Regions from separate parts of the Homo sapiens genome. Here all the other regions are linked to region 2. The links come from fine-mapping of genetic effects on gene expression. A gene starts in region 2. Each other region holds a variant in brackets. All regions are shown on one strand. Distances are between the middles of the regions. Region 1 overlaps FHAD1 (forkhead associated phosphopeptide binding domain 1). Region 2 holds the start of FHAD1 (forkhead associated phosphopeptide binding domain 1). Region 3 overlaps FHAD1 (forkhead associated phosphopeptide binding domain 1). Region 4 holds the start of EFHD2-AS1 (EFHD2 antisense RNA 1).

What was found. PIP is the estimated chance that this variant, and not a neighbour inherited with it, causes the effect.
Region 1: its variant is the best candidate, but not a certain one, in a credible set for the expression of FHAD1 in testis (GTEx, PIP 0.82).
Region 3: its variant is the best candidate, but not a certain one, in a credible set for the expression of FHAD1 in transverse colon (GTEx, PIP 0.65).
Region 4: its variant is the best candidate, but not a certain one, in a credible set for the expression of FHAD1 in nasal epithelium (TOPMed, PIP 0.58).

What each region holds. Positions count from the first base shown.
Region 1 is chr1:15,357,888-15,366,023 of GRCh38, forward strand. It overlaps FHAD1 (forkhead associated phosphopeptide binding domain 1), which reads left to right. Exons shown (of 34, transcript NM_001391957.1): 21 at 223-396; 22 at 2,591-2,816; 23 at 4,755-4,839; 24 at 7,940-8,046. Among named protein-coding and RNA genes, the nearest start is that of FHAD1-AS1, 18 kb to the left of the region's middle. RefSeq lists enhancers at 4,301-4,370, 7,026-7,526. The variant T/G (reference allele first, on the strand shown) is at 4,200.
Region 2 is chr1:15,242,755-15,250,890 of GRCh38, forward strand. FHAD1 (forkhead associated phosphopeptide binding domain 1) reads left to right here and starts at 4,469. Exons shown (of 34, transcript NM_001391957.1): 1 at 4,469-4,641. RefSeq lists silencers at 4,304-4,477, 4,495-4,734.
Region 3 is chr1:15,269,126-15,277,261 of GRCh38, forward strand. It overlaps FHAD1 (forkhead associated phosphopeptide binding domain 1), which reads left to right. Exons shown (of 34, transcript NM_001391957.1): 3 at 3,198-3,404. Among named protein-coding and RNA genes, the nearest start is that of FHAD1, 26 kb to the left of the region's middle. The variant G/A (reference allele first, on the strand shown) is at 3,404.
Region 4 is chr1:15,411,472-15,419,471 of GRCh38, forward strand. The region is part of intron 1 of EFHD2 (EF-hand domain family member D2); the gene reads left to right. It overlaps EFHD2-AS1 (EFHD2 antisense RNA 1), which reads right to left and starts at 897. Exons shown (of 4, transcript NR_183705.1): 1 at 435-897. RefSeq lists silencers at 279-328, 5,542-5,836, 6,724-6,843 and enhancers at 4,836-5,335, 5,084-5,173. The variant C/T (reference allele first, on the strand shown) is at 3,436.

The sequences.
Region 1 (8,136 bases), 120 kb after region 2:
CAGAGACCAGAAATCACAAGGAGACAGATCTCCGCTGAATATAAAGACGAGTTCTATAATAATTGGAACCTTCCAGAGAAGGCATGGACTTTGTGCTTTAAAAGAATCGACAGAATAATTAGAGAATAGACTTTACCCTGTCCTTGAAGGTGGGGGATAAGGGGGCTGGGTAAATATGTATTCCTGAATGTCTGTTATTTTGCTACTTGTTTTTTTGTCTAGGAATTAGAATTAAAAGAGCAAAAAGAGGACGTTTTAAATAATAAATTAAGTGACGCACTGGCCATGGTTGAAGAGACTCAGAAAACAAAGGCAACTGAAAGTCTAAAAGCAGAGAGCCTCGCCTTGAAATTAAATGAAACATTAGCCGAACTGGAAACTACCAAGACAAAAATGGTAAGTCGGTGCCTTCCGGGAACGGGAGAATTTTTCTCTCAATGGAAGATTACAGTGCCACGAGAATGTGTGGTTTAGACCGGGGCTTCTCAGCCTCAGCACTGCTGATGTTCTGGGCCAAGTAGCTCTTTCCTGTCAGGGGCTGTCCTGAGCATCTTAGGATATTTAGCACCACCTCTGTTCTCTACCCACCAGATGCCAGGAGCCCTCTCCCCACAGTCGTGATCACCAAAAATGTCTTCAGACATTGCCAAGTGTCCCTTAATGGACCCCTAATGAGAAGCGTTGGTTTAGAACGAAATGTACACAGAGCTAGGATGCCCTCTCTGCACGGTGTTCTGAGATGTTGTAATGCAGGGTCCTCACAGGATCAGAACGCCTGGAGAGCCTCAGGATTGAGTGATGAGTGACGATTCCACAGGCTTTAAGACAATGCATTAAAGTGTAGGCTCGGCATTCGAGGCCCTCCACAATTAGGGCTCGATGTGCATTCCCTCTGTCATCCACACGTTCAACCGACAGGTTTCTGGGCAAGGAATTCATGAAGGTGAATCTCCCAGAAGAGCACAGAGTAAATTTCACGAGGGTGTGGCGTTGGAGAGAACAGCTCTGGGTGTGGAACGTGGTGTAGACCAGAATCATAAGGAGCTGACCTTGGCGGGAGCTGGGGGAGGCGTGGGGGGAAGGGAGTCTCTGGAGAGAGTTACGATGGCAGGACTTGATAACTGCTGGCAGGACGTGAGCACCAAGGAGAGGACAGTGCCGAAGGAGACTGCACACTTCAGGCCAGGGCGCCTGGGGACCTGATGGCATAGGGACGACATAAGGATGGGAGTATGGAGGTCTGGGGTCATGGTGGGGGGTTCTCTTGGAGCGACCCTCTTTTGGAGAAGAGGAGACAAGAGGAGTAAGGCGAGGATAGGGCATCAAAGTCCAAAAGCTCCCGAGATTTGGGTGCACAATAGTTTTGGGAGAGAAAGCAAGACAAGAGCCTAATCTGGAAGGCAGCCTCTTAGGTAGGGTCCTTGGAAGAGCAGGCATGTGTGAGTGTCTCGGGCAAAGAATGTATCTGTCATGGGTAGATCAGAGGCCAAGGCCCAGCACGTCACCTGGGAATAGGGAGCAGGACAGGGTGAGGTGGGAGCAGAAGGCGGGCAGTGAGGAGGAGGTGCTGGGATGGAAACGCCAAGGGGAGCCTTAGGAGGTTGTAGGCATGGGAAAGCAGCAGATTTGCCATTCGGGGGTCATTAGTAATTTTTTGTTTTTAAGAAATGCAAATTCTGGCTGAGCACAGTGGCTCACACCTGTAATCTCAGCACTTTGGGAGGCCAAGGTGGGTGGATCATCTGAGGTCAAGAGTTTGAGACCAGCCTGGCCAACATGGCAAAACCCCATCTCCACTAAAAAAAAAATACAAAAATTAATGGGAGGCCGAGGCGGGCGGATCATGAGGTCAAGAGATCGAGACCATCCTGGCTAACATGATGAAACCCTATCTCTACTAAAAATGCAAGAAAATAGCCAGGCGTGGTGGCGGGCGCCTGTAGTCCCAGCTACTCAGGAGGCTGAGGCAGGAGAATAGTGTGAACCCGGGAGGCGGAGCTTGCAGTGAGCCGAGATCGCGCCACTGCACTCCAGCCTGGGTGACAGAGAGAGACTCCGTCTCAAGAAAAAAAAAAATTAGCTGAGTGTGTTGGCGCACACCTGTAGTTCCAGCTACTCAGGAGGCTGAGGCAGGAGAATCGCTTGAACCCAGGAGGCAGAGGTTGCAGTGAGCCAAGATAGTGCCACTGCACTCTAATGTGGGTGACAGAGCAAGACTCTGTCTCAAAACAAACAACAACAACAACAAAAAGTTTACATTTCTAGCGGGGAAGAGAAACAAAGAAACAAAATTAAAGGCTTCAGGGACAATGAAACAGACGCTGGAACAGAAAGTGTCTGGGGCTACTCCTGATAGGTAGTCAGGGAGGGCCTCTCAGAGGACGTGATGCTGGAGCTGAGCCCTGAGAGTCAAGAAGGAGTTGGCCATGCAAGGAGCTGGGGAAGAAGTGCACAGGGCAGAGGGAACTGCATGTGCTAAGGCCCTGGGGTGGGGCCCAGTTTAGCACCTATGTGTGTGCCCAGGGGGCATATTATTGTTGCCGTCATACACAGCTCCCAAGACCTCACTGAGTGACTCTCTGTTTCCCAGATCATGGTGGAAGAGCGGCTAATCCTGCAGCAGAAGATGGTAAAGGCCCTCCAGGATGAGCAGGAATCACAGAGACACGGGTTTGAAGAAGAGATCATGGAATATAAGGAGCAAATCAAACAGCACGCCCAGACAATTGTGAGCCTCGAAGAGAAACTCCAGAAAGTCACTCAGCACCATAAAAAAATAGAAGGCGAGATTGCAACATTGAAGGACAATGACCCAGGTAAGTCCGAAGGGAGGCCAAGGAAATCTTAGTGTTCGGGGCAGGTTCTGATTGTCCGCTGGGTCCCAACAGGCTGATGGCTAAGAAAAAGGCCGTGCCTCATTCGAAAGCTCATTCATTCTCTGAGGCCCCCTTTTGTTCTTGTTACACAACGATGTCAGAAGCCCTCCGAGGCCCAGGTTCAGCAGAAGTCATGGCAATGAGTTGGGACATCCTTTGTGCCTACTCAGTGAGCCGGCGAGACACACAGGCTACCGGGGCTGTCAGGGCCAGCGAGGGCAGCGCGAAGTGGAATCATCTTTTCCACATGAAAACATCTCATGCAGGGGCCTTTCAAAGGTTTCTCTCTGCCATCGGCCTTTTGCATCTTCACTAATGCACTCATTACCAGCCAGGATTTATCCCTTAAAAAATTAACCCTAAAGAGGCTGAAAAAAGAACTCAGACTTGTGAGCACTTATTTGCCCCAAATGGCCAAGGTAAGCTGTATTATTGTAAGCTCTTGAAGAAAGTTCTGGAAGTAGAGGACTCAGGCCAGGGTATCCCAGCCTCAGCCCTGTTGACATTTGGAGCAGGATCATTTTTTCATGGATGGGACTGTCCTGGGCACTATCAGGTGTTAGCAGCCTCCCTGTCCTCCATCCATCAGTTGCCAGTGGCACCCCTACCCCAGTTGGGACAACCAAAAATATCTCCAGACATTGCCCAATGTCCCCTAGAGGCAAATTCACTCCTGCTTAAGAAACATGGCTGTAGTCCCCAGCAAGCTGGCAAGCCATCAGGACTTACCTCATTCATTCACTCACTCAGCTCTCTCGGTGGAGCTTCTGTTATGTTCCAATCTCATGTAGGCACTCAGGATCCAATGATGGACAAACCAGATTTTGTCCCCGTAGTAACAAAATTATTGCCCTGACAGGTGATCCAGGATGAATAGGGCACCATGACAAGGACAAAGAGTGGAGTTCAGTTTCCCAATCCAGAGTCCAGGTCAGAGGGAGGGTGTCTGAGATTGAGCTGGGGGCCAGGTCAGTGGCTCACGCCTGTAATCCCAGCACTTCCGGAGGCCGAGGCCGGCGGATCACTAGGCCAAGAGATCGAGACCATCCTGGCCAACATGGTGAAACCCCGTCTCTACTAAAAATACAAAAATTAGCCGGGCCTGGTGGCGCGCGCCTGTAGTCCAGCTACTCGGGAGGCTGAGACAGGAGAATCGCTTGAACCCGGGAGGCGGAGCTTGCAGTGAGCCGAGATCGCGCCATTGCACTCCAGCCTAGCAACAAAGCGAGACTCTGTCTCAAAAAAAAAAAAAAGAAAGAGAGAGATTGAGCTGGGACCTGAAGGGTGACGTCCAGGTCAGAGGGAGGGTGTTTGAGATTGAGC[T/G]GGGACCTGAAGGGTGACTGCATCTTTGTCACCCCCGTACTTAGACCAGTATGCACTCCACAAATGTTAGTTGAAGGGATAAACAAGTGAGTGAACACGTGAGGATAAACAAGTGAGTGAACATGTGACTGAGTAGTGAGACAGGACGCTAGAGGCGGTGCACTGAGGTGTAAATGGGAGGTGAGGAGAGGAAGGCGCTAAACACAGATTCTTCTTCCAAGAGAGACAGGCAGGCGGTGGGACCAGGGGCTGAGACTGCACTGCTCACCAGCTTAGCCAAGTGGGTCGCCGGCAGCTTCCATCACTCCGGTGCCCCTTTCCCTGTCTGTAAGTGGATTTGATGGCCCCTGCCTTCTAGAGTAGCTGGGAAGATTGCATGGCCACACACTTGGGGAGAGCCCCCAGCCTGTGACATGGCACACGTGCAGGTCTCACAAGGTGGAGAGGGCTGCAGGTGGAGGCAGGGTTTGTAAGTTGTGAAAGACACAGGTGTGCTTGTAAGCAAAGGGGAAGGACAGTTTCCTCTCACAATGATCACATGTCCCTCTGATACAGCCCCAAAGGAGGAAAGGCCGCAAGACCCTCTGGTGGCTCCCATGACAGAGAGCAGTGCCAAAGACATGGCGTACGAACATCTGATGTGAGTACCCGTGGGTGTGTGAGCGCCAGGCATTCTCACCGGCACCACCTGGGTGGGGGCAAACAGGCAACCAGCCCCTACCTGGGCCACATTGTCAGAAGCCAAACAAGGAGCCGGGCCTGCTGCCTTCCCAGTGCTGCTTCCATTTCCCCATTCCTTCAGCCCAGACCACATTGTCAGAAGCCAAACAAGGAGCCAGGCCTGCTGCCTTCCCAGTGCTGCTTCCACTTCCCCATTCCTTCAGCAAGGCAGGGCAGTGTCGTGGAAAGATTTAGGTAGACCTACATTCAGATCCTCAGACTGTTTTCTGCTATTTATAGCAGAATACCCAAAACTGGGTAATTTATAAAGAAAAGAGATTCATTTCTTACAGTTATGGAGACTGAGAAGTCCCAGGTTGAGGGGTTGCATCTGGTGAGGGCCTTCTTGCTGTTGGGGCTCTGCAGAGTCTGGGAGTGGTGCAGGGCATCACATCCAGGGGCTGAGCGTGCTAACTCAGGTCTCCCTGCCTCTTTTTATAAATCCACAGTCTCACTGCCATGATAACCCATTAATCCACTAACTCAGTAGTCCACAAATCTATTAATCCATAATTGTACCTTCGTGACCCAATCGCTTTATAAAGGCCCCACCTCTCAATACTGCCACATTGGGGGTTAAGTTTCAACTTGAGATTTGGAGGGGATGAACATTCAAACATAGCAGATCCCAACTCAACACTCCAGCTGTGTGACCCTGGGCAAGTCACGCCACCTCACTGAGCCTTAGCTTCCACATTTGTGAAGTAAGGCTGTACATGCCTAGTGCTTGGGAAATCTAGCTAATACTGTTATTAGCTAGTTTTCCCGAGGATCAGCTAGAGGCAAGCCCACTCACAGGTGTTATTAAGCAGACAGAGATTTCAAACAGTGGAGACCACTTGGTGGGGCGGGGCCCTGTAAAGGGTGAGAAGTTAAGGGGTCGGCTAAGTGACCTTAAATAAATGATTTCAACTCTCCTGACCCTGAAAGCCAGTGAGTCTACAAAGAAGTCTATCCTCAAAGAACTGACAGTTTTCAGAGAAACAAACGTATGAATGGGAAAGATCCAGAAAGCAGCACGTAAAGAAGGAGGCGCCGATGGGATGCAGTGGAGGGATTCAGAAGCTCCCCCAAGAGGAGAACCACCTGCCTGACCCTTGCACCAAATCCTAGTGACCGAAGTCTAATGTCACAGGGTTTTTACCCCAAAAAGACAAGGATACTCAGCCTCCGCATTGTGAAAAGTTCCTGACTCCTCCTCCTGTTTAAAATCTAGAAACGGTGGTGCCCATGACTTGGAGAAGACTCAGCACCACCCAGCTCTGCTCTGGTCCACTTCCTTGGCGTGTGAACATGCTTGAATTCTAAGGTTTTATCCTCAAGTTGGAAGATTTGTGGTTGCAGCCAAGAACACACTCACGTGGACACACACGCATGCATGCACACACAGAATATACTATATCTATGTAGTTATTTTCATTCTGATGATCACCAGTCTTTTTGTTTGTTTGTTTGACATGCAACCTGCCAGTGTTTTACTTTAATTCATAATAAACACAGTACCTTCTAAAGTCTGTATAAGGCGGGGCGCAGTGGTTCACACCTGTAATCCCAGCACTTTGGAAGGCCGAGGCGGGTGGATCACCTGAAGTCAGGAGTTTGAGACCAGCCTGGCCAACATGGTGAAACCCCGTCTCTACTAAAAATGCAAAAATTAGCCAGGCATGGTGGCAGATGCCTGTAGTCCCAGCTACTTGGGAGGCTGAGGCAGGAGAATCACTTGAACCTGGGAGGTGGAGTTTGCAGTGAGCTGAGATCACGCCACTGCACTCCAGCCTGGGCGACAGAGCAAGACTCCGTCTCAAAAAAATAAAAATAAATAAAAAATAAAGTCTTTATAAGAAGAGCCTGGATTTCAAAAGCCTGTGAACTCAAATGAAGTGGCATTAATACCTGCAAAGACTAAGGCTCCTAACCCCCTTCCAAAAGGGCAAGACCCACTCCCTGCAGCACACACATGACCTATCTCCGCCAGGCTGCAGTTTCTCAACTTGCTGAGACATGCACCCTGTGTTCTTCCAGTCAAATCCCCACCAAGGCGCCTCCCCTGCCATTCCTGCTGGGCGCCCTTCACCTCTCCACTGGGCGCAGCCTCCCTCCCATCAACCATCCTGAGTCTCAGGGCACCAAACGTGTGCTGCCCTCCAGGGGTGTGGGAGGGGAAGTTGTCCCATCACCATCACTGTCCCCCTGTTGCCTGGGCCCCTGTTGCCTGGGCCACACTTCCACTGGCTCCCAGAAGAACACCATTCATTCACATCTGGCCCCACCTCTCTCCACCAGGAATTCAAAGGGGCTGCTGAGAGAACAAAGCCACATTGTCTTCCTCTCTTTTTTCTTCCCTGTCCCCAAAGAATCCCTGAACCTCCCCAAAATAGTCTTCCCATGTCCCTCCACCATCAGAAGTCCACAGGCACATCCATTCATGATGGTGGGTAGTGGGTATCAGTCTCATGCAAGGCATGTTTGAGCCGCAGACTCAACTCAGCCAGATCCTGTGTTCTATCTCAGTGGATTTTCTTTTTTCTTTCTTTCTTTTTTTTTTTCTTAGAGATGGGTTCTTGCTCTGCCACCCAGGCTGGAGTGCAGCCTTCAACTCCTATGCTCAAGCAATCTTCCCACCTCAGCCTCCCGAGTAGCTGGGACAACAGCCACACACCACTATGCCTGGCTAATTTTTTTTTTTTTTTTTTTTGTAGAGACGGGGTTCTGACTTATGTAGCCCAGGCTGGTCTCGAACTCCTGAGCTCAAGTAATTCTCCAGCCTTGGCCTCCCAAAGTGCTGGGATTACAAGCACATGCCTGGTGCCTGGCCTTAATGTATTTTCTTAAATGAGGTGCATGAAAAAAGTCGTTTTTCTTTTAGAGTTTTTGAAGACTGTCCTCATCCTTTGCTGGGACTGGCGTTGCATGGACCGTGATTGAGAATCTCTTTGCATTTGTACTTGGCCCCTCCTGACACTCAGGAGATAACATGGAGTTTGAGTTGAACTGACTTCACCTGTTTTTGTGAATTTCAGAGATGACTTATTGGCTGCTCAGAAGGAAATTCTGTCTCAGCAGGAAGTCATCATGAAGTTAAGGAAAGACCTTACCGAAGCCCACAGCAGAATGTCGGATTTGAGAGGTTTGAACAATTTCTGGTGTCTCTTGACCTCCTGACCCACTCGAGAAAGGAAGGAGATGAGGCTAAAGAGTCGGCCGGGCGCAGTGGCGC
Region 2 (8,136 bases):
TTCTCCAGAGTGTTTGTGACCTGGGTTGAGATTGGGGCTCTCTTCGCACAGCATCAGAGAAAAAGAAAACAGGCAATAATCGTAAACACTCATAGAGCCATTCAGTTGTACCAGCCACTGATCCATTGTTTCATACGTCTTAACCCATTTAATCCTTTCAATAAAATGGATTGTTGTATACCCATTTTACAGGTGAGGGAAGTGAGGCACAAACAAAATACAACAAAAACCAGGCCCAGGACAGGTGGGGCCAGCACACTTTGCAGTTTTTGAACGGATGGTACAGACAGACCCCCCCACAGCAAAGCGCAAGGAACCAAGGGGAACTGACTTTGAAAAATGATTTGCAAGATAACTGAATGCTCCAAACCAGCATGAAAGAGTCGACATGAGACGAAGCTCCATATTTTCTCATTTTCTGCCACGGGAAAAGGCAAGGATGGCTGCAGAAAGCCTCAGTTGCCAGTTATTCTCTCCATGGTTTGAAATTATTTTCATGAGTCTCTGTGTGTAGGTCTGTATATAAAAATCTGTACTTTCTAAGCTTATATGGTCAGGTTACTAATGGGCCGTGGAGTCTCTAGTGGGCCCTCTGCTCTCTGTCATCCGTCACCCTGCGCAACAGCTTGGCTATTTCCTGCACTCTTTACTCTCTTGTTCTTGCTCTTTCTCTGGCTCTCTTTCATGCCATAGAGGCTGAGGAAGCCTCCACACCTCTCCTGGCCGCGGCTGGGGCCTGAAGCCAGCATTCATTTCATGTTGGAATGCAAGGGCAGCAGGAGAAACATCACACAGTTCTCTGAGGATGGAGCACAGGGTTAGGCTCTCCCCAGGCAAGAACAGCCCAGAGAAGGTGGCTGGGAAGGAATGAGATTTTACGGGGGCAGAAGTTCTGCAGGAACGAAGCCTAGTGCCCAATGTCAGCAGGTAATGTGGGTGGCAGGCCTAAGCTGCCTCCTCTGGGCTTATGCCCCCTTCACTCCCTGCCCTGGGCACTGCCTGAACCTTTGGACAGACAAGAGTGCAGGCTGCTCAGAAGTGAGAGAAAGCAGTTGTGAGTAAGTGGCATCTTGTGATTGTGACAGCTGTCACCTGTAGTTCCCCAGGGGAAATACCTTCCTTGTCACATTCATCTCGATTCAAATCCTGCCAGATTTTCTAGCTGTGTGACTTTAGGCAGATTTCTCCCTGTCTCTGAGCCTTATTTCCTACAATATGGGCTTCGTCGTCACCAAGAGTTCAATAAAAGGTTAACTGTAGGCACTGCCAAGAAGCACAAGTAATCTAGAAACATCTATTTTTTTTTTTCAGGGACAGTATTTTTAATGCCGCATCACTGTTTAATTGCAATGTACAACTCTCTTACTCAGCCCAGGAAATTATATCATAAAACCCTAAGTTATTGGGTATTTGATTTTCTGTTTTTGAAATGAAAATGGATGATACGGAATTGGGTTTCAAGAACTTTGCACACCCTTGAGATAACAGTGGCATCCTGAGGGACAGAGGATCCAATTAAGATTTGGCAACTTCGGCTCCACTGATTCTGAGTGTCAGCTTTGCTCTCAGTTTAGGATTTTTTGTTTTTCATTGAGATATCAGCTAACAGCAACAGATGATCTCTCAAAGCCTGGTGAGGGGCATGGGCTGTTCCAGCTCATGGCCAGCCTGGGTTTCACTGGGGTCTGTCTGATAGCAAGTTTGTGTCCTGGGTTCATGTTAATGACAAGAGTTTGACCAAAGACAAGCATGGAGGGGTGGTGGTAGGGATGGAGGTGGTGTTCAGGCCTGGGCAGGGGACTAGAGAAGCCGACATCCTGGGGCGAGGACAGGTCAGCCCAGCAGTCCTCAGAGGACAGGAGGCCGGGCTTCAGAAGGGTGGCAGGGGCTTCCCCCTGCATATTTATTCATTCAGACATTGTTCTAGGGACTGGTGGCACAGCAGCAAACAAAACATGAAAAAAGAAATTCCTGCTTTCATGGAGTTTAGATTCTACCAGGGGTCAGGGAGGGAGACACAATAAATAACATAAATAAATAAAGAAATAGTATGTGAGTTGATGATAAGTGATGTATTAGTCCATTTGTGTTGCTATCAAGTAATACCTGAGGCTGTGTCATTTATCCAGAAAAGAGGTTTATTTGGCTCACAGTTCTGCAGGTTGTACAAGAAGCATGGTGCCAGCATCTGCCTCTGGTGAGGGTCTCAGGCTGCTTCCACTCCTGGCAGAAAGTAGCGCCTGCATGTGCAGAGATCACATGATGAGAGAGGAAGTGAGAGTGAGCGAGGGGGAGGTGCCAGGCTCTTTCTAACAATCAGCTCTTTAGGAAACTGATAGAGTGAGAACTCATGCACCCTACAGGAACAGCACCAAGCCATCCATGAGGGATTCGCCCGCATGATCCAAGCACCTCCCGCCAGGCCCCACCTCCAACACTGAGGAGCAAATTTCAACATGAGATTTGGAGGGGTCAAATATTCTAACTATAGCAAGTGGCAAAAAGAAGGGAAGAGGGATAGAGTGTTGAGGTTTTTATTTTGTTTGGATGTGCTTTTGTTGTTCTTATTTTTATTTGCTTTTGTTGTTCTTATTTTTATTTGCTTTTGCTGTTCTTATTGTTTTTATTTGCTCTTTTTTGTTGTTTATTAGATTTCATGGTGGTTGTTTCATTGTTTCAAAAAACCAATTTTAGAAAAGATGATATGTGAGTAAAAAGCTAAAGTAAAGAAGGCAAAGGAGACTCTTGAGGGGAAGTGCATTCCAGGCAGAGGAATGGGCAAGAGCAAAGGCTCTGAGGCAGAAACGTGTGGGAAGCTGAGCTTGACCCTCTCTGTTCCTGTGAAGCCATCACTTGGGTCCCAGCCCTTGTGGTCCCTCCTAACATTTTACGCCTAGAATCTTTCTGGTTGTAGGAAACTGATCCAGGCAGAACCTTCCAGACTGAGGGCCTGGAAGAGATTTGTAGGGACAGGCTCCGGGAGAGGTCTCTGCAGTTCAGCTGCATAAATCAGGGTTTTGTCAAGCTTGTTGCAAATGCACATTCCTGGATTATGTCCCAGGCCTGCTAAATCAGAATCTCTGGGGTCTGTGCCCAGAAGTCCGCATTTCTAAAAGCCTCCAGGCACGTTTGAGCATCTTCACTGTATATTCCACCACAAATCGATGTCCATGATTTCTCTCTCAGATCCTCTTCCTATTGACTAGGTGTATTAGTCTGTTCTCACACTGCTATAAAGTAATTCCTTGAGACTGAATAATTTACAAAGAAAAGAAGTTTAATTGACTCACAGTTCTGCACTGCTAGGGAGGCCTCAGGAAACTTACAGTTATGGCGGAAGGCCAAGGGGAAGCAAGGAAGCTAGCATGTTGTAACATGGTGTAGCAGGAGAGAGAGAGAGCAAAGGGGGAAGTGCCACACTTTTAAACCATCAGATCTCATGAGAACTCACTCGCTATCATGAGAAAAGCAAGCGGGAAGTCTGCCCCCATGATTCAATCACCTCCCACCAGGCCCCTCTTCCAACACGTGGGGAGTGCAATTCGAGATGAAATTTGGGTGGGGACACACAGCCAAACCGTATCACTAGGGTAGAATGTGCCATAGTTCATCTCTCTTAGAAAAACGTTTAGAGTTTTTCTTGAGGTGTCTGGTCAGCCATTTCCTGCCAGTGAAAGGAATCACTCTCCAGGTAGAGTCAGCAGGAGATAGGATTTCCTGCTGGAGATAGTGGCGGGAGATAGGATTTGCACATCTGCTCAACACACTCCATCCCGCGAGTCCTGTGCCGGCTGACAAGCGGTTTCTTAAGGACAGTAACTGTTCCAGGTGTATTCTGGGATCAGCGTGTGACACTCATAGGACTCAAAAGATGTTTGCAGAGATAGAGAAAGGGCAAAAGAATGAATAAATGTCACTCTTAACAGGGAGGAGCAGAGGCAGCAGGATTGTGAGTTTGGAAATATTTTTTCCCCAGCACATGGAAGAAATCCTCATTCTTTCAAAATTTTTCATTCCACCCCATCCCTTTCCCAATCCCCACCCCACTCCCAGAGATCCCCTCTTCTTACTCTTTCTATTTTCTGGCCTGTAACGGAAAGGACTAGAGATTTGGGTAGGGCAGGGGGCATACTAACCTCCAAGGGTCTCATGAGTTCAGCTCCATCAATCTCCTACCTCTCCCTATCGCCCCCGACCCTCCCTCAACGCATCCAGCTTACAGTGAGGGGTAATGGAAAGGATTCTTGAATCAAATCTCCTCCCTGCTCCTTCCTCGCTGTAAAACCTTGGGCCATTTCTGTGACCTCTGAGCCTCCGCTTTCCTATCTGTGAAATGGGGCAGGCTCGTGGGGCCTGGAGCATTCAGCAGGCGGTAACCCAGTGGGCGTTCCCTGCACGGTGCCACGCCCCCTCTGCCGCGCAGGCCACGCCCTCATCTATTAGGCTGGACCCCGCGGCGCCTGGCGGCGTTGCCATGGCAACGCGCGTACACAGGCCGGCCGGGCGGGCGGGGTGCCGGGTGCGAGCTGGAGACTCCGCGGGAGCGCGGCCGGGAGGCTTCGCCCCGGAGCTGGCCCGACGCCTCCCGAGCTGGCAGGGCTCTCGGCGGAGGTCGGAGCGTGGGCTTCCTCCTCCCGCCAGGTGAGTGCGGCGCGGGAAGGGGTGGCGGGCCGAGACCGGGGACCGGAAGGGGCGGCCCAGCGAGGACTAGCCCTGGCAGGAGGAGGGGTGGCTCCCCGGCCCCATCCTCCTGGATCCAGGCTCCGGTCCCCAGGAGCACCCCAGTAGCTACCCCAACACCAGCCCCTCCTTTCCAGATGCAGGCCCCACCCCGCCCGCGGAGGAAGCCCCCGGGAGCCTTAGACCCTCCTTGGCACCAGCCATGCCACTCTGGGAAGTCCTGGGGGTTACAGCTGGGATTAGGAGGGGCATCCCTGCTGCCCCTGACTTACGAACGACACCCACCCGGCGGTCAGAGAGACTCCCCCCTTGCCTAACCTCTCCCTTCCCAAATACAACACTGAGGAATTTCTAGGGCTCCCAGGCCACTTAAGATCTGGTAACCCCTCAACAGAAATTTTGCTTCTCTATCTCACTTGTGACCTATAAGCAGGGAGTGCAGATGCCTGAAGCTCTTTTGCTCTTTTGCATGGTCGGTGCCCTGTGTCTTAGAACTAATTTACAGAGTTTAACGCATCTAATCACTTTCTACAGTGTTTTCAGGTAGGAAAGTGACTGCACAGGGCAAGATTAAAGTGGGGAAATAGGGCCCAACCCATTCAGCTAAAGAAATAGACTTTTTTTTTTTTTTCCAGAATGTCATCTAGGATAAATACTGAAGGGGAAAATGAAAGGTAGTTACTGTCAGAGGTTCTTAGGCTACCCTGACTTACTTTTAAGCATTGTTTTGTACTTTCATTCATTCATGATTTACTGAGCACCACTATGTGTCAGGCATGGCAGCGCTGGGGGCCAGAGGGGAGTAATGAACAGACTGTGAGGAAATGCAAAGGGTCTGAGATTTTTACACTACTTGCAAGCTAAGTTAGCCTGCCACTGCTTAATGATGCTAGCAGAAGACCAGAGACTCCAGGACCAGAGACAAAGGATGTTATTACTCACAGCACAGCAGGCACTGTGAGCTCATGTTTGCGTTGGTTCCCCTTGCCCTGCAAGTACCCCGGGGTGATGCAGGACAGCTCAGGTGGATGCTGTGCACACTGCGAGTCTGTTTCCCAGCTAAGGAACCCCAAGCTCAGGAAACTCCAGTCTTTTAAAAGGGGCTGCTAGCCAGTGCCCAACCTTTGCCCTGGAAGGAGATGACCTTTTTTTTTTTTTTTTAATTGAGACAGAGTCTTGCTCTGTCTCCCAAGCTAGATAGAGTGCAGTGGCACAATCTCAGCTCACTGCAACCTCTGCTGCACGGTTTCAAGTGATTCTCCTGCCTCAGACTTCCGATTAGCTGGGACTACAGGTGCAAGCCACCATGCCCGGCTAATTTTTTTGTGTTTTTAGTAGAGACAGGGTTTCGCCATGTTGGCCAGGCTGGTCTCAAACTCCTGACCTCAGGTGATCCGTCCACCTGGGCCTCCCAAAGTGCTAGGATTACAGGCATGAGCCACCGTGCCCAGCCAGAGATGACATTTTTATCATAAATCTGCACTCTGCCCTGGATAGGGACACTATCCCTATCCTCTCAGGATATTTGCCCTACAGATGTCCTTGGAAGATTGTCTGGAACAAAATCTGTCAGTGTCTTTGCTCTGAAGATGGGTACAAACACAGGAAACCCATGGAGAATTGAGTTTAACAAAAACAACACAGTTTGGGCTCTCTTGGAACGTATCTCAGTGAAAGGGAAACAGTAAACAGCTAAGTAAAGAACAAGAAAATGACAGAGAATGATAAGCTCAAGGAAGGAGCCACAGCAGTGACACATGCTAGCTAGACAACAAAGTGACTGGTGACGCCTTTAGCTGGGGTGGTCAGGTAGCTACCGCAAGGCACCAGCTGTGGAAACATCGGGGGGAAGAGCTAAAAAAAAAAAAAAAGCCAGTCATTCAGATTTGGGGTTTTACTCTGGAGGCATTTCCTGTGGCTTTCCCACAAAAGAGACATTTCTCGAAAGTTGACTTTAGATTACTTTTACTTTAGTTTGGATGTGGTGCTTGATGATGTAGTCCTCTGCAATTGAAGATTAATAACTCAGGCAATTTGAGGGCAACAGGGCATGGTTCTTTTGGAAAAAGAAGTGTCTTTTTATCCCTATTAAAGACAGCAGACTTAAAAATAAAATTCTCATTATATGAAAGTATTAATATTTCTGAGGATTTCTCATAGGCTTCGGAATTTACAAACATAAACTATCTGGCTTGTTTTTATTTCTCTTACTCCCAAGGGTCTTTTCTTTTTTTGCAGAGGATAGAATTCTGGTGTTAAGGGCTATCTGTTATTTCATGTCCTAAGTGTCAACAAAACAGTGACAACCCCACTATCCCAAGTGACAACCTCTCCCTCCCCCCACTCAGTCACTCTCTCTGCTCCCCCATCCCATCCCCTCCCCACCCAGCAGTGATGGAGGTGTGAAAAGTTGAGCTGCCTGAGGATTATGTAGTGGTGACATGCAATGGCAATCTCCCTGCCCGAATGCTAGGGGACCTTAACCTCTCTGCATCTCAGTCTCCTTTTCTGTAAAGTAGGGACAATAATGACACCCACCTTGCAGGGTTTCTCTGAGGATGAAAAGAGTATATTCAAGGAAAAGTGCCTGGCACTTACTAAGGACTCCATAAATGATGATAGAGATGATGATGAAAAGCAGAGCCAGCCCCGAGAGTCCGTACCACCACAACTAGTTGATTTTTGTTTTTACCCATAGTCCAATAATTTGTCATTTCACTGACTTTTCAATTGAATGGAAAAGAGAGAGACTGTTGTTGTTCTTTGACAAGGAATTGAGGTGGAGGATATCACACTGCATCTTTAGACGTAATCTCAAATCGGATTCAAGCATCGAGATGAATTACTGTCAATATTTTAGAACTTTCTGAAGTCACTGAAGTGTTTGTCTTAAAAGATGTGTATAGAACTTATTTCGAAATGCACCACAATATAAAATGGATGGACACACGGATAGATGGAAAGATCTGTGATAAAGCAAATATGGCAAAATGCCGATGGTAGAATCTAGTGGTGGGTACATAGGAGCTCATTATCTGCTTCTTTCAGCCTCTCTGTATGTTTGACATTTTTATAGTAAAATGCTGGGGGGAATACTGTGCAGGGTCCTGATTACATGGCTGAGCTATAATCTTGATATTTTGCCTTTAGAAGTAATCTTTTTTCCCCTAACTAAATAAATGAAGAAATACAGCGATTTAAAAAGAAAAACATCATCTAATGCCTGCCTCTCCAATGATAACTCTTTAAGAAACTCCAAAAGCAGACATGGTGGTGTGCCTGTATTCCTAGCTACTCTGGAGGCTGAGGCAGGAGGATCAGTTGAGCCCAAGAGTTCAAGACTGCAGCGAGCTATGATTGTGCCACTGAACTCAGCCTGGGCAAAGAGCAAGACCTCATCTCTAAATATGAATGAATGAATAAAATAAGCTCTATAGAAGTTTAGGGTTCCTTGGA
Region 3 (8,136 bases), 26 kb after region 2:
TTGTTTTCTTTGATTCTCTCTATTGTCTTCAATTTCATTCATTTCTGATCTAATATTTCTTTCAGTTCTTCTGTCTATGTTAGGCTTATACTGCTCTTCTTCCTCTAGTCTCCTAAGGTAGAAACTTTGATTATTGATTTCAGATCTTTCTTCTTTTCTTATGTGTGCATTCAAGGCTATAAATTTCCCTGTAAGCACTGCTTTCACTGCTTCCCACAAATTTTAAGTGGTATTTTCATTTTCATTTAGTTAAGATAATTTTTAATTTCTCCTGAGATTTCTTCCTTCACCGTGTGTTATTTAGAAATGTGTTGTTTAATCTCCAAATGTTTTGGGATTTTCCACCTATCTTTCTGTTACTGATTTCAAGTTTACTTCCATTGTGGTCTGAGAGCATATTCTACATGATTTCTATTCCTTTAAATTCATTGAGGTGTGTTTTATGGCTCAGAATGTGGTATAGCTTAGTGAGTGTTCCATGTCAGCCCAAGAAGAACGTGCACCTTGTTGTTGTTGGGTTAAGTGTTCTATAAATATCAATTAGATCTTGTTGATTGACGGTGTTGTTCAGTTTAACTATGCCTTTACTAATTTTCTGCCTGCTGGCTCTGCTAATTACTGACAGAGGGTTGTGGAAGTTTCAGCTGTCATATTGGGCTTATCTGTTTTTCTTTGCAGTTCTGTCAGCTTTTGCCTTGTGTATTTTGGCACTCTGTTGTTAGGTGCATGCACATCAAGCATTGTTATGTCTTCTTGGAGAATTACCCCTTTACCATTATTTATGGCTCTCTTTTTTTTTTTTTTTTTTGAGTTTCACTCATGTCACCCAGGCTGGAGTGCAATGGCATGGTCTCAGCTCACTGCAACCTCCACCTACTGGGTTCAAGTGATTCTCCTTCCACAGCCTACTGAGTAGCTGGGATTACAAGTGTGCACCACTACACCCAGCTAATTTTTGTATTTTTAGTAGAGATGGGTTTTCACCATGTTGGCCAGGCTGGTCTCAAACTCCTGACCTCAGGGGATCTGCCCGCCCTGGCCTCCCAAAGTGCTGGGATTACAGGCATGAGCCACCACACCTGGCCTAATGCTTCTCTTTATCCCCAGTTTTTCTTGTTCTGAAACTGCCTTGGCCGCAGTTAGTATAGCTACTTCAGCTTTCTTTTTTATTTTAATATTTTGGGTGGCAAAGTGTTTGGTGGAAACTTGGAAAGTGGCTAATAGCACAGACATTTGAATCAGGCGAACCTGAGTACAAGCCAGGTGACTTGTCAAGCGGGGTGACTTTGGGTAAATTCATTCTGTGTCTCAGTTTCCCTATCTACCAAATGGGAAACTATCTCTAGATTGTTGTGAAGATGAAATAGGGCAATGCAATAAAGCACTAAGCAATCTCCTGGCTTGTAATGTGTAAGTAATATGTTTTATTGTTACTCTAGTATACATATTAATATATTCTATTATTAATATAAGCTCTAGGTTGTTATATGATGGAACTTTAGTTGTCTACATGCAAGTACTTTTATATAAAAGCTGGACAGGGCACCCTGAGAAGATAAACTTAGAAAATAGTTGCAAAGTCTCAAGCTGGCATGGATGTCTGGTTGACAGTGCCCTTAAAAGATGAAGACTTTGGCCGGGCACGGTGGCTCACGCCTGTAATCCCAGCACTTTAGGAGGCTGGGGCGTGCGGATCATGAGGTCAGGAGTTTGAGACCAGCCTAGCCAGTATGGTGAAACCCCGTCTCTCATGCCTGTGATCCCAGCATTTTGGGAGGCCGAGGTGGGTGGACCACGAGGTCAGGAGATGGAGACCATCCTGGCTAACATGGTGAAACCCCGCCTCTACTAAAAATACAGAAAATTAGCCAGGCGTGGTGGCAGGCGCCTGTAGTCCCAGCTACTTGGGAGGCTGAGGCAGGAGAATGGCGTGAACCCGGGAGGCAGAGCTTGCAGTGAGCTAAGATCGCACCACTGCACTCCAGCCTGGGCAACAGAGCGAGACTCCATCTCGGAAAAAAAAAAAAAAAAAAAAAAATTAGCTGGGCGTGGTAGCACATGCCTGTAGTCCCAGCTACTCGGGAGGCTGAGGCAGAAGAATTCCTTGAACCCAGGAGGTGGAGGCTGCAGTGAGCCGAGATCGTGCCACCACACTCCAGCCTGGGTGACGGAGCGAGACTCTGTCTCAAAAATAAAAGACGAAGACTTCAGTGTGCCCTGCAGCTCACAGTCAGAACATTTCCCTTCATCCCTCCAGGGCCCTGCAACCAGGGGAACATGCAGTCACCTCCTTTGTGCTGAGCTTCACTCAGTCCTCTTATTAAAGTGAAATTACAGAGGAGCTTCTGTCCCTTGCCATCAGTTTGCAGACACACTGGCTGGGGCCCCTTTCCTTTGGGGAAACATGGTCACACCAAGCCCCCTTTTGAAAAGCGGGCCATCTGTGGTTAGGCAAATCCTGAATAGCTTTTAAAAAGCAATGGAAATAACTAATCGCATGGGAAATATTTATTGTACATCAAGGTTTTTCAAAGGTAGTTATAAAACTATGTATGTAGGGTGTGATTAATTTTGTTTAAAAAAATTTAAAAGGACGTAAGCATAGAAAAAAAACGTGGAAGGATGTGAACCTCAATGTTAACCATGGCTGCCACTGGTGAGGGTGGGATTATAAGTAACGGTAATGGCTTCTTTAGTACTTTTCTCTATTTCTTGTTTGGGCCATTTTTGCCTCCTGTCCTGGTACTGAGTACCACCATAAATACCCATGTGGAGTCAGGGAAAAAGAAAATGGCCAATTCCTTGACGATTTTCGGTTTTGGTAAAATAAAAAATAAAAATAAAAACAAAAACAAAAAGAAAAGAAAATGGCCAATTCCCTGGTCCCATATTTGTCCAATATGACTCTCCCAAGATCCCTTTGCCTTTGTGTTGCCTGATTTCCCCACTCAACAACTTAGGTACCTGTCCCCAGGTCTGGTGTCAGACAGAGCACATATCCCAAGCTCCTTCACACACTAGCTGTGTGGCCTTGGGCAAGTCGCTTAACCTCTCTGATCCTCAGCCTCCTCCTTTTAAAATGAGGATTGTCGTGATGATCTGGCGGCGGCAAAACAGGTAAGGCACTCAGCTCAAAACATTAGGGGCCGTGTCATTTTTGTTTTCATGGCTACGACTGTCCTCCTTCTCCGTTGCAGTCTCCTGACATCGACAACCACCATGCACTCATTGAATATAACGAGGCGGAGTGCAGCTTTGTTCTCCAGGACTTCAATTCCCGCAACGGCACGTTTGTCAACGAGTGCCACATTCAAAACGTGGCTGTGAAGCTCATCCCTGGAGACATCCTGAGATTTGGGTCTGCAGGGCTGACCTATGAACTGGTCATTGAAAATCCACCTCC[G/A]GTGAGTCCGGGCCACTGGGGGATAGAGGGGCCATGTCGCCTTCGTGCAGCCCGGCGCTCGGATGCAGCTGCAGGGTGGCGCTTATCCACATTGGTGCCACTGTGATCGCACGCTGCACACAGGCAGCAGAGACAGAGTGGACCCTGTGGAGTTCTGAGTCATTCTGGCGGGTCCCAGGAAGGAGAGAATCTTAGCACCCTCTTCTGGGCATTTCTTGGAGTTGCATCTTGGCTCACATAGAACCAGTTTTCCAAAAATGTGCAACTTCCTGAGAGGAGGCGGAAAACAAGGTGTGCTTTTGAAAATGCAGAGGTGGATTTCATTTTTAGGTAGATGAGCACGCTGCTCCTTCCTAGCTCTGTGACCTGGGCCAGACTTCTTCATATGCCCAGGTCTCTGCCTTCTTGACGGCACATGGCATCAAGAGAATGTCTGTAGAGCCTGAAACTCAGTGTCCAAGTAGACGCTCTTAACACATAAGCGCCTGAAAAGCCAAATCTGTGAAGTCCGAGCCAGTGTTTCCCTAAACATGTCTGATTATCAGAATTTGAGGGGGACTGTTCAGTAAAATTACAGGTTCCCGGGGCCCCTCCATGGGAGATTCTAATTTTGTGACTTGCCAGTGGGGGAGGAGGAGGATGCACAATATCTCTATTTCTTTTTTTTCATACAAAGGTATTTATTGAAGTATTATTTGTAGTGGCATAACATTTGAAACCTAAATGCCCATCAAAAGGGGCATTGTTTAATAAAATATAAGGGGTTCATTCTTATGTGGATAACTATGCTGCTTTTTTTTAAAATGCAGCTTTATTGAGGTATAGTTGACATACAGTAAAACTGTACATGTCCAAAGTACATCATTTGCTAGGTTTGGGAACATGGATATACCTGTGAAGCCATTGCCACAACCAAGACATTAAGTGCACCCGTCACACTACAGGGTTCCTCATGACCTTAGCATTTCTTTGCTTCCTTGCTTTGAACAGCTTTATAGAAGTATAATTTATGCAGCATAAACCCTGCCCATTTTAAGCGTACAATTCAACACATTTCAGTATATTTACAGAGGGGTGCAGCCATCACCACAAGCCACTTTCAGAACATTGCCATCACCATGTACATCCTAGAAAGAAACCTGTGAGATACTTGACTTTTTGTGTTGGTTTGTGCAATTTTTTATGTTTTAAACTGTGGTAAAATACATATAACATGAAATTCACCGTATTCACCGTTTCTAAGGAACAGTTCAGTGTTGAGTGCATTCACATTGTGGCGCTGCTGTCACACCGTCGATCCACAGAACTCTTTTCATTTTGCAAAACTGAAACTCTGCCCCTATTAAACAAGAGCACACTGTCTCCCTGTTGCCCTCTCACCCTAGCCTCTAACGACCACCGTTCTACTTCCTGTCTCTGTGAATCTGACTACTCTGGGTACCTTGTATAAGCGAAATCATACGATATTTGTCCTTTTGTGTCTAGCTGGTTTCACTCAGCACCAAGTCCTCAAGGTTCATCCATGTTGTAGCATGCGTCAGACTGTCCTTCCTTTTGAAAGCTGAAGAATGCTCCCTTGTATGAGAGACCACATTTTGCTTATCCGTTCTTCCATGGGTAGACACGTGGGCTCCTTCCGCCTTTTGCCTATTGCAAATGATGCAGCTGTGAACCTAAGTGTACAAATTTGGGGAGGGGTATTTTGTTTTAATCACATAAGTGTGTCACCCAGTGGTAAAGATGTCCAACCTTCACTTCTGAAGGAGCAAAAGAATGTATTATAAAAGATTCTGTTTTGGCCAGGCATGGTGGCTCACACCTGTAATCCCAGCACTTTGGGAGGCCGAGCCGGGCAGATTGCCTGAGCTCAGGAGTTTGCGACCAGCCTGGGCAACACGGTGAAACCCCGTCTCTACTGAAATACAAAAAAAAAATTAGCTGGGCATGGTGGCGGGCGCCTGTAGTCCCAGCTACTCTGGAGGCTGAGGCAGGAGAATTGCTTGGACCCAGGAGGTGGAGGTTGCCGTGAGCCGAGATCATGCCACTGCACTCCAGCCTGGGTGACAGAGCAAGACTCCGCCTCAAAAAAAAAAAAAGATTCTGTTTTGTATAATAGTTTATATTTTGTTAGTGAATGAGAACGGTAGAGTTATTATAATGGAATAATGAGGAGGAGCAGGAGGGACACTGTGCTAAGGCATTTACCTGCTTTCCCTTATTTAATGCAACAGCCTAGGGCATGGGCTCTCTCATGATCCCCATTTTGCAGACAAGGAATCTGAAACTCAGAGAGGTTAAGTAATTTGCCCAGGACCACACAGCTAGTCACTGTGAATTAAACTCTGTCTCCACTTGCAGGTAACAATTGGGAGAAAACCATTGGGTCAGCTGCTAGGTGCAGCAGTATCATCAACTGGTTTTCAAAGACAACAAAGCACACTTTTTTTTTTTTGAGACGGAGTCTCACTCTGTCGCCCAGGCTGGAGTACAGTGGCCCGAGCTCGGCTCGCTGCAAGCTCAGCCTCCCGGGTTCACGCCATTCTCCTGCCTCAGCCTCCCGAGTAGCTGGGACTACAGGTGCCCACCACCATGCCTGGCTAATTTTTTGTATTTTTAGTAGAGATGGGGTTTCACCGTGTTAGCCAGGATGGTCTCGATCTCCTGACCTCGTGATCCGCCCGTCTCAGCCTCCCAAAGTGCTGGGATTACAGGCGTGAGCCACCGCGCCTGGCCAACAAAGCACACTTTTACAGTCACTTGGCTGTACATGAATTTTAAAAATTCTTATTTCTACATGCAGTTGCCTCCTGCTTTATTAGCTAAGGGACTTTTGGCAGCCAGACATCTGCCCCCTGGCCCATGCCCAGAGTACCTCACAGCAGCCCGAGCGTTTCCAGGGGGCAAGCCGAGCCTCTGTCCCTGCCAGGTTTTCCTCAGAAGACCCCCTGTCCGCCTCCACCCCATCCTCACAAAACTGCTCTCGGCTCCCTTTCAGAGCATTCCTAGATCAAGAGACATTCGTGCAGGCTTCCTCTTAGTGACAAAGGGTCCTTTGCAGGCCTGAGTGAGGGCAGCCATGTGGACTGAGTTTCTCTTTCTGATGGCTTCCCTTTCTATTTGCCTGATGACCTCGACCTGTGAGCTATAAAAAAGAAAAAAGGAGGTAGTGAAGAGCGTCTCTCATCAAATCTCATCTCATTTTGGGGTCCAGTTTTTCTAAGAAATGTGTAGCTGTCTTGATTCCAGCATGCTCTTGTCTCTTATTGATTCTTTGAGTCCCTAGAGAGGGGGCTGTGTCTTCCCCGCGGTAGAGTTTTCAAGGATTGTTTCCTTTGGAAGAGGACTGTCCTAATATTGTAAGGCTTAGCTGTTCTTTTCCCAAGAAAGAGTTCCCAAACAGAAAAATTTATTTCAGGCTTTGTGGTGACCATAACCAACAGAGAGGGACGTGACAGCCATTTCAATAGGAAATGGGAGGTGGAGGCAGAAGTTAGAGACCCAAATGTGTTTGTAGACATCACAGTGGCTAGCGTGGGTGTCCTGAAGTTCAAGTGAGTCTGCCCCACACAGTTCTGCCCTGCTCTTGACCAGCTGTGGGATCATGCACAAGTTGCTTCACCTCTCAAAGCCTCAGTTCCCATTTCTGTAAAATTGGAATCCTAATAGTTCCTCATGTGGGGTTACTGTAGTAGTAAACGGGTCATTGTTTGCAAATTGCTTAGCCCAGTATCTGGTGCCTATGATAGCAGGAAGGTAAGAGGAGCACGCTAGCAGCCACCTGCCTCCACTGTGAGCCTTCCCATGGACAGAAAACCTCCCAAGACCTCCCAACTACCAGGTGGATGCCTTTGCAAATAACTTACCCATGGAGTGACATACAAGGTAGAAAAACAGAAAGAAACTCTTGGTTTACAAAGTACATTGGCACCCACGATATGCTTAAGAGTACACGTTATATATCATAGCTTTTTTGCCAAAGTATAGCCTAGGGGCCGGGCGTGGTGACTCATGCCTGTAATCCCAGCACTTTGGGAGGCCAAGGCAGGAGGATCGCTTGAGGCCAGGAGTTCAAGACCAGCCTGGCCAACATAGTGAAACCCCATGTCTACCCAAAACACAAAAAATTAGCCAGGCGTGGTGGCACATACCTATAGTCCCAGCTAGTCAGGAGGCTGAGGCACAAGAATTGCTTGAACCCGGGAGGCAGAGGTTGCAATGAGCGAAGATCATGCCACAGCCTGGGCAACAGAGTGAGACTCTCTCAAAAAAAAAAAAAGTATAGCCTAGGGCCACCACCTTGCACAACTCCAGTCACCATTCACAGTAGAGTCCACAAAGATGGCACCCCCTGGAGTTGTGCGAGGCATAACCTACAGGGCCATTTGCGATGCCCTGAAGCAACTGTTGAGTAGTAACACTGACTCCCTGCCTAAGTGTCAGGCGTGTGAAATCCAAGTCACAAAGTCAGATGTGCTTGCCGCGTTGTTTCTGCCATTATGATGTTTGCTTGTTGGTTTCTTTAGTGCTTTATGATTTCCAGGAAAGGAGCTGTGAGTGAGGGTTGTCCTGTGAACACTAGTGCTGTTCTTATAAAGCAGCTAGGTAAGGAAACCTACGTTGGCCTGTTCTGCCCTGCTCCCATTCCAGCCAGAGCTTCCCACATGACTTCTGGATGCAGTCCTTCGACCCTCTTGCAACCTCATGACATCCTGCCCAACATAAAGAGTGCCCAT
Region 4 (8,000 bases), 170 kb after region 2:
GGTCTAAGATGCACAGCCACTCTCTCCCAGCCATGTGTGTGCCCAGGGGATGGGGAAGGTGCCAGTGCCCCTCCCTTTGGTAGCTTTCCCCACCTCCTGTTCCCTGTCCCCCTGCCCCTGGCTCCTGGAGAGGGAACAGCCTCGTTCCACGATCTGGGTGCTGGTCTGGAGTGGTTCTGGAAGGGGATAGAACTGGCCTGAGGCTGAGTCTTGGGGGTGAGCCAGGAGGTCTAGCCCCACCTGGCACAGGCAGCCCAGGGCTGAGGGAGGGATGCGGCAAGGCCGGCTCCCGCTTGGCTGGGCAGGAGGTGGGGGCAGACCAGGGGTGTCAGCCTCAGCCACATGCAGCTGTCAGTGCCCCAACATCAAGCCGGAAGCCCAGGAAGGGGCGTTTTGCAACTGCACTGTTTGAGAAAGGCTCTGACCCTACTCACCACAGCTTGCAGCAGCTTCTGCATTTGGCCCCAAGGCAGGGGGAAGGATTTCTGGTTCCCAGTTGCGGGTGGCTGAGGAGTCCCATACTTTCCCAAGGTCCTTCTGGGGGAAAATCAAGTCCTTGACCCCCGGCCCCTCTGAACCTCTTTGAGAAAGTCCCAGGGCCCAGAACCTCTTCAAGAAAGTCCCAGGGCGCCCACGTCCTTGGCTCCACGGTGTTTGGTTGGAGTTCTTCTAAAGTTTCTTCCCAGCAGAAGACTGGCGAGATTGGGAGAGCAGGATTTCCAGGATTCCTGGAAGAGTAACGTGAATGCTCCTGGGTGGGCAGACGCAGGGGTGGGTATGGATCACTGTCTGTCACTGCCCCCATCGGGCAGTGCAGAGCTGATTCAGACACCACGGAGATCCCTGTGCTGATAGTGCTGAGGCGCTCACCAGGTCCCTCAAACAGCCCTGTGACACAGAGCTCTTCGTCACCTTTGTGCAGACAAAGGGTGTTAAATAACTCGCCAAGACCACACAGCTAGAAAATGATAGAGCCAGGACTGAAACCCAGGTCTGTGACTCCAAATCCCGGGCTCTTCCCCTTCCGGGTTTCCCATCACAGACATCTACTTTCATGTTGGAAAACCTTCTCCAACACCCGCTTCCGTGTTCGTGGCGGATTGTCCATTCATGTCCCCAACCCCAGCCCCCGTCTCTCCTTTCCCCCAGAGCCTGCCTTCTCCTGGGCTTCCACAGCTTCCCTGCCACTGGCCACCAAAACAAAGATGGAGCTGTTCTGGGAGAACCCAGACACTTCAAATGAGCGGGACTTGGGAGGCTGCAGTGTGGTTGGAAGTGGCATGCAGCTGAGGGAACAGTCTGGAAGCTTCATTTGCGCAGCAAACTCACTTTTTTTTACATAGGCTGTTTCTGGTCTAGTTTGATGAGAGGTACTCTGAGGGCGACTGAGGGGAGCTGGACCCCTCCAAGCTACCCCTTGGCACCTGCACTTCTTGCCAGGGTTCTAGGAGGGCTGATGGGGCAGGCAGGGGCCAGGAAGCTGGACCTCTAGGGAAGCAAGTGCTGCCTGCCAGGGCCCGGGTGAGGGTGGAAAGCTGCAGATTGTGTATTCAAGGAAACAACGCTTCACTGTGCCAACCGAGCCCAACCCCGCCGCCAACAGACGGGCTCTCGTGGAAGACAAACCCCCGTTCTGCTTCCGCTGTCCGAGTGGGGCTGCAGCCTCCTGGGTCCAAGCAGGGTCCTAGGATCAAAGCCAGGGCATCAGAGCCAGGGCTCTGGGGAGAGCAGAGGGCAGAGAGGAGGGGAGCCTGCCCTCCTGGGAAGCCAGTCACTAGAGCAGGAGGCAGGAGACCATGAGGTCAGCAGGAGAATGGGAGCCAGCCTTTCCTTGGGGGCCAGGAGCGAGGAACCTGGGCTTCCATCCTAGTCTGCTTGTCCTCCCTGGGCCTCAGTCTACCCACCTGTAAAAGGGGCAGGCTATCCCTCATGACCCCCAAAGGTCCTTCAGCCCTGACCTGCGTATGTCTGAGGGGTCCTGAGCCCTTCTGGATATTGGAACTGCCTTCCAGGGCCTTCTGGTCCACCCCTCCGTGTTGATTCAGCAGGTACTTCCTGAGGCTGGAGATCGAGGGGGAAGAGAGGGGATGGGGGAAGATAGACAGACTGTCAGCCATCACTGGTCTCACACCTAGAGTCATTCAGGTTCCTCCTGAGAGAGACCTGAAGGGTTGACTCCAACCCCTCTCCCCATTTGACAGAAGAGGGAACCAAGACCCAGAAAGATGTGGCGGTGACTTGCTCGGGGTTACGGAGAGGTTCTCAGTGAGGCTGAAACCTTGTATGATGAGGAGAGTGGTCCCGGTGTCTCAGGGTGGGGCTCCGAGGACATGACACACTTAGAGTTCTGGGCCAGTGCCAGGCACAAGGAGGCTCTGCGTCTCCCTGGCCCTCGCAGCCAGGACTCTCCATCCCCGTCTCCGTGCGGCCTCAGGCTACGTCCAGCATCTCTGATCCCCCAGCTGCTCCCTCCCTCTCTTTGCTCCTCCAGGGCTGGCTCTGGAACCCTCCTGTCAGAGAGGCAAAGAGAATGGCCCTGGAGAGCCTCGGGAGTGCCCACCCCTGGGCTGACAACAGCCTAGCGGGGGCTCTGGAGGGTTTTGTAAGTTGAGACCTGCTGGAAAGGTAGGCAGCCGTGTAATTCTGAACCTGCCGTGGAATCTGAGGACGATGCCCTAGATCCCTGTCTCCCGCCTAGCACAGCCTTGCAGGCCCTGTCCCCACTGTCATCCCCAGCCACTTCATCTCAGGACACCTTACGTCAGAGAGGCAGGCTTTCCTTTCCTTCTGGCCAGCTCTTCCCTGCACAAGCTCTGGAAGCCTCCCGCCCTCTTCTCCACACCTCCACCTCCAGGGGACACACCTCTCCCAGGAGCCCTTCCTGGACGCAGTCAGCAGGGCCTCTGGAGTCTGCAGCCCTGGGTTTGAATACAGCTGTGGGCTGTGGAGCCCTTCTGAGCTTCTGTTCCTCACGCTGGAACAGCGGGGACAGGGGGACCCACGTTACAGGGTTGTTGTATGGCGCTTAGCCCAGTGCTTGGCACAGAGCAAGTCGTTACTAAATGACTGTCACCGCCATCCCCAGCTCAGCATACACCCTCTCCTGGGCCCCTCATAGGGCCCTGGCAGTGGTCATTGCGGCTGGCTCAGAGGCAGCTCCACAGTGCCCACTGGCTGCCTCCACTTAACCACCAGCGGAGCTTCCAGGTCTGCCAGGTTGTCGACAACCCTTTGCTTTGGGCCCTAGTGACAGGACGCAGGGTTAGAGCCCTCCTTCTCTCCTGCTGAACAGCCACTCTGATTGACAGCTACATATGGCTTTGATAAATAACAAAAAGGGAGAAATGAATTCATTATCACCTAGTTTCAGGGAAGGCAGGTGGCACAAAAAAGGGGAGAGCAAACAACAGCTCTGGAGGGTGCACAATGGGGATT[C/T]CCGTCTGCCACCACCCAGCTGGGTTGCTCCAGGCAAGGGACTCAGCATCTCTGAGCCTCAGTTTCCCCTGGGGCTCAAGAACCTACCTGGTAAAGTTCTGAGGATTAGGTATAAAAACACCCTGAGTCTTTGTGACGAGCCCATCATGGTGTCTGGGCTGTTTGCATGATAGATGATGTTTTTGAAAAATACAAGGTTCTCGTATGTGATCATTCTTCCAACAGATATTAAGTTTTTGCGCTACAAGATCCAGAGAATTAAATGAATCAAGTTCCTGCCCTCAAGAGGCTTATAGCCTTATATAGAACAAACATGTATAGAGGTTTGGGGATAGAGAGGATTGCACCCACAAGGCTAGCAATGGAAGGTTTTTTTCTTTATTTCTGCCATGATTACCGAAAGCTCTCATGAATGACACCATGCTGATGTTCTCTTTGTAGCCAGCCCCCTGCCTCTGTGCCCCCTCCTTGTTAAACAGAGCCACTAGTTCTAGCCATTCCTGGAGGAGCCTATGCATATTATTTAGAGAACTGAATTGAATTCTCACACCAGCACAATGAGATTGATACTGTCTTTGTTTTCCTTTTTTTTTTTTTTTTGAGATGGAGTCTCGCTCTGCCACCAAGGCTGAAGTACAGTGGCATGATCTTGGCTCACTGCAGCCTTCGTCTCCTGGGTTCAAGTGATTCTCCTGCTTCAGCCTCCCAAGTAGCTGGGACTACAAGCACACACCACCATGCCTGGCTAATTTTTGTATTTTTGAGTAGAGACGGGATTTCACCATGTTGGCCAGGCTGGTCTCGAACTTCTGACCTCAAGTGATCTGCCCGCCTCAGCCTCCCAAAGTGCTGGGATTACAGACGAGAGCCACCGCTCCCAGCCTGATACTATCATTTTTATCCCCATTTGACAGATGAGAAGACTGAGGCTCAAGGCGATTGTCACTTGTCTAAGATTATATTAAGTGGCAGTGACAGGATTAGAACCAGATCCTCCTGCAAGGAGCCCCTGGAGGCCAAGTGAAGCCGTGTTTGTGGCTGGGGCTTGGGGGAGCCTCCGAGAGCCTTAGAGAGGTGGAGAGGTGGGGTCCTTCACCTGCAGCTTAGGGTCAGTGGGTGGGGAGAATGCCCTGCACCCCTGGGGAGGAAGGATTTCCTGGCCTCGGTCCTTACTCCGTTCCTCCCACTTCCACTATGCATCAGCCTCTGAGTCACCTCTCCTTCCCCACACCCCCGGCCCAGGACTTTTGGTTCCTCTTTGGTCCACCCTTCCTGCCTTCTCCGGCTTCCTCGCTCTCCTCCATGCTACCTGGGTCCAAGGCCTGGTGGCTTGGACTGGCTTCCACTGTGAGAGTCTAGGCTCCAGGACAGCAGGCCTTGCTGCCTCAGGGGATGTCAGAGGTCGTTTCCTCAAGGCCAGCCCTGCCGGCAGAGGCAGAGTCACTTTGCAGCCTCAGCAGGGAAGGTCCCCACACCCTGGAGCAGCTGAGTTCCCCTGACTGCCGGGCAACCTTCTCCTTGGCTGACTTCTGCTTTTCAAGGACAACAGAGAGGCAGGGGTCAGTGCCAGAAAGGTGTGGCCAGATGGGAGCCGGGCCGCCCAGGGAGTCCTGAGCCACAGACACTTCAAACCAGATGCTTTGCCTCCCGTTCAGTCCTTTCTTATCCTGCAACATTATCCTCGCCCATTTCACAGTTAAGGAGGCTGGACTTTCAGAAGGGTTATGTGACTTGTCCAAAGTCACATAGCCAGTGAGGGGCAGAATAGGATTTGAACCTGGGCCTCCCCGGCTCCAAGTCCTCTGAACCCTTACAGTGGCCCAAACACCAGCAGCTTCACCGCCCGGGAGTATGTTAGAAATGCAGATGCTCAGATTCCACCCCAGATTTACCAGACTGTAATCTGCAATTTTTTTTTTTAAGAGACAGAGTCTTGCTCTGTCACTCAGACCAAGTGCAGTGGTACGATCATAGCTCACTGCAGCCTCAACTTCCTGGGCTTAAGTGATCCTCCCACCTCAGCCTCCTGAGTAGCTGGGACTACAGGCACATGCCACCACATCCAGCTAATTTTTTTTTATTTTTGTAGAGATGGGGTCTCATTATGTTGCTCAGACTGGTCTCAAACTCCTGGCCCCAAGCCACCCTCCCACCTCATCCTCCCAAAGTGCAGGGATTACAGGCATGAGCCACCACGCCCAGCCCATAATCCGCACTGTAACCAGCTTCACCAGGTGTGCACACTGACGTTTAAGAAGCGCTAAGCCTCGGCTCAGGCCCCCGCACAGCCGTCTCCCCACCACTTCCTGAGGTTGACCTAAGGTTATCCTTAGGTGGGTGACTTTGTCTGAGCTGTAAGAGGATAAGATGTATGGAGTAAAGATTAAGTTACGTTATAAACACTGGGTTATGTTAATATTAGGCATTCAATAAATATTCTTTATAATCACTATCATAACAATAATGACTATGAAGAGCAAGAAGCGAAAGGGGGTGGCTGGCAGGGAGTGCCGTGGGTGCGGTGTGAGGTTGTTGAACTCCAGGTTAGGATGCCTTTGAGCCCTGACAGCCCCCCAGCAAATTGCTTGGGGTCTCCCTCTTTATCCTCCGTGGGGGAGCCCCAAGCGCCACACTTATGTGCTCTCTATCTCTCCGTCTCTCTCTCTCTCTCTTTCTCCCCCAACCCCATACCCCACTTAGCTGAACTAGGGCAAGAGATCAAGTGTGAGATTCCCAGATAGGACTAGAGGAAGTGGTGAGCGCTGGGCTTTCCCTATATGAGTCAGGCAGTCTGGGGGTGGGGACATGCAGGAACTGGGGAAGCCAGGGGGGCCTGAGGGCTCCTGAGCCCATACCCAACACCCACCCTGTCCAATTGTCTGTTCTCCTGGGACCTGCACGCCCAGAGCGGCCATCAGTAAAGCCTGGGATGGGAGTCAGGAGAGACAGAATTGGGGTCCCTGTGCTCCCACCTTCCCGTGTGCAGTTTTTGCAATGACTCTGCTTCCTTCTGCCATCAGACTGTGCAGTGCAGCTTGGGGGCACCTGCACGAGGAGCAACTTTCTTTCTTTTTCTTTTTTTTTTTTTTTTTTTTTTTTTTGAGACAGAGTCTTGCTCTGTCACCCAGGCTGGAGTGCAGTGGCACAATCTTGGCTCACTGCAGCCTCCGCCTCCCGGGTTCAAACAATTCTTCTGCCTCAGCCTCCCTAGTAGCTGGGATTACAGGCATGCACCACCACACCCAGTTAATTTTTGTATTCTTAGTAGAGACAGGGTTTCACCATGTTGGCCAAGCTGGTCTCAAACTCCTGGCCTCAAGTGATCTGCCCGCCTCGGCCTCCCAAAGTGCTGAGATTACAGGCGTGAGCCACTGCACCTGGTCGAGGAGCAACTTTTTTTTTTTTTTTTTTTTTTTTGAGATGGAGTCTCGCTCTGTCACCCAGGCTGGAGTGCAGTGGCGCGATCTCGGCTCACTGCAAGCTCCGCCTCCTGGGTTCACGCCATTCTCCTGCCTCAGCCTCCCGAGTAGCTGGGACTACAGGCGCCCACCATCACGCCCGGCTAATTTTTTGTATTTTTAGTAGAGACGGGGTTTCACCGTGTTAGCCAGGATGGTCTCAATCTCCTGACCTTGTGATCCGCCCGCCTTGGCCTCCCAAAGTGCTGGGATTACAGGCGGGAGCCACGGCACCCGGCCGCAACTTTCTAATAGTTCCAAAGCCAAGATAGGCCCCCCCTTAAGTAAGCAATGAGCTTCCTGTCCTCAGAGGTATTCAAGGCACTAAACAACGAACTGCATCAGGAATCTGATTTTCAGGAACGACTGAATAAGATGGCCTCTAATATCCCTCCCAACCCCGAAGTTCTCTGCTGTGTCCTGATAGGCATCAGGGCATAGCATAGTCGTTAAGAGTGCATGTGTTTGATCAGGCCTGGTTCAGAGCCCAGCGACACCCTTGTCACCTATGACCTGGGCTAAGTCGCTTCCCCTCTGAGCCTCAGTCTCCTTGTCGGTTCATGTTCATGCCGCTTCATAGGCTTCTTGTGAGAATCTGATGCAAAACACCTGGCATCGTGCCTGGCACATAGCAAGTGCTCAGCAGAGTAGCCAGGAATGATGATAGATTATGACGTGGGGCTCACCTGGGTGCAAGGCTGGGACATCTGCACTGTGCATGGTTGACGCCTCCACTGCCTACCCCTGTGACTCCCTAGTTATCAGAACTGGGGAGAGGGGCAGGGGCAGGGAAGCAACCAGCTGGGGACCATGCTCACCCCAAAGGGAAAGGGTCGTCCTTGGGGGGTAACTGGCTGCTCCGCTTTCGAGAGGGGGATGGATGGGGATTTTGTCCCCAGCATCCAGGGTGCAGCTAGCTGCTGAGCCCTCCCTGACGAGAACTATTCAAGGGGAGGCAGATAGGAATGCGGGCACGGTGCCAGGCCCCGCAGCCTCCCTCCGGTGCTGGAGAAAAGTGCTGAGCTCCCAGGCTGGGCGCTTTCTGCCAGTACTGCCGAATGGCATTGGCCTTCCCAAACAGGCACCAAGCTGGGCTCTCAGTCCAGC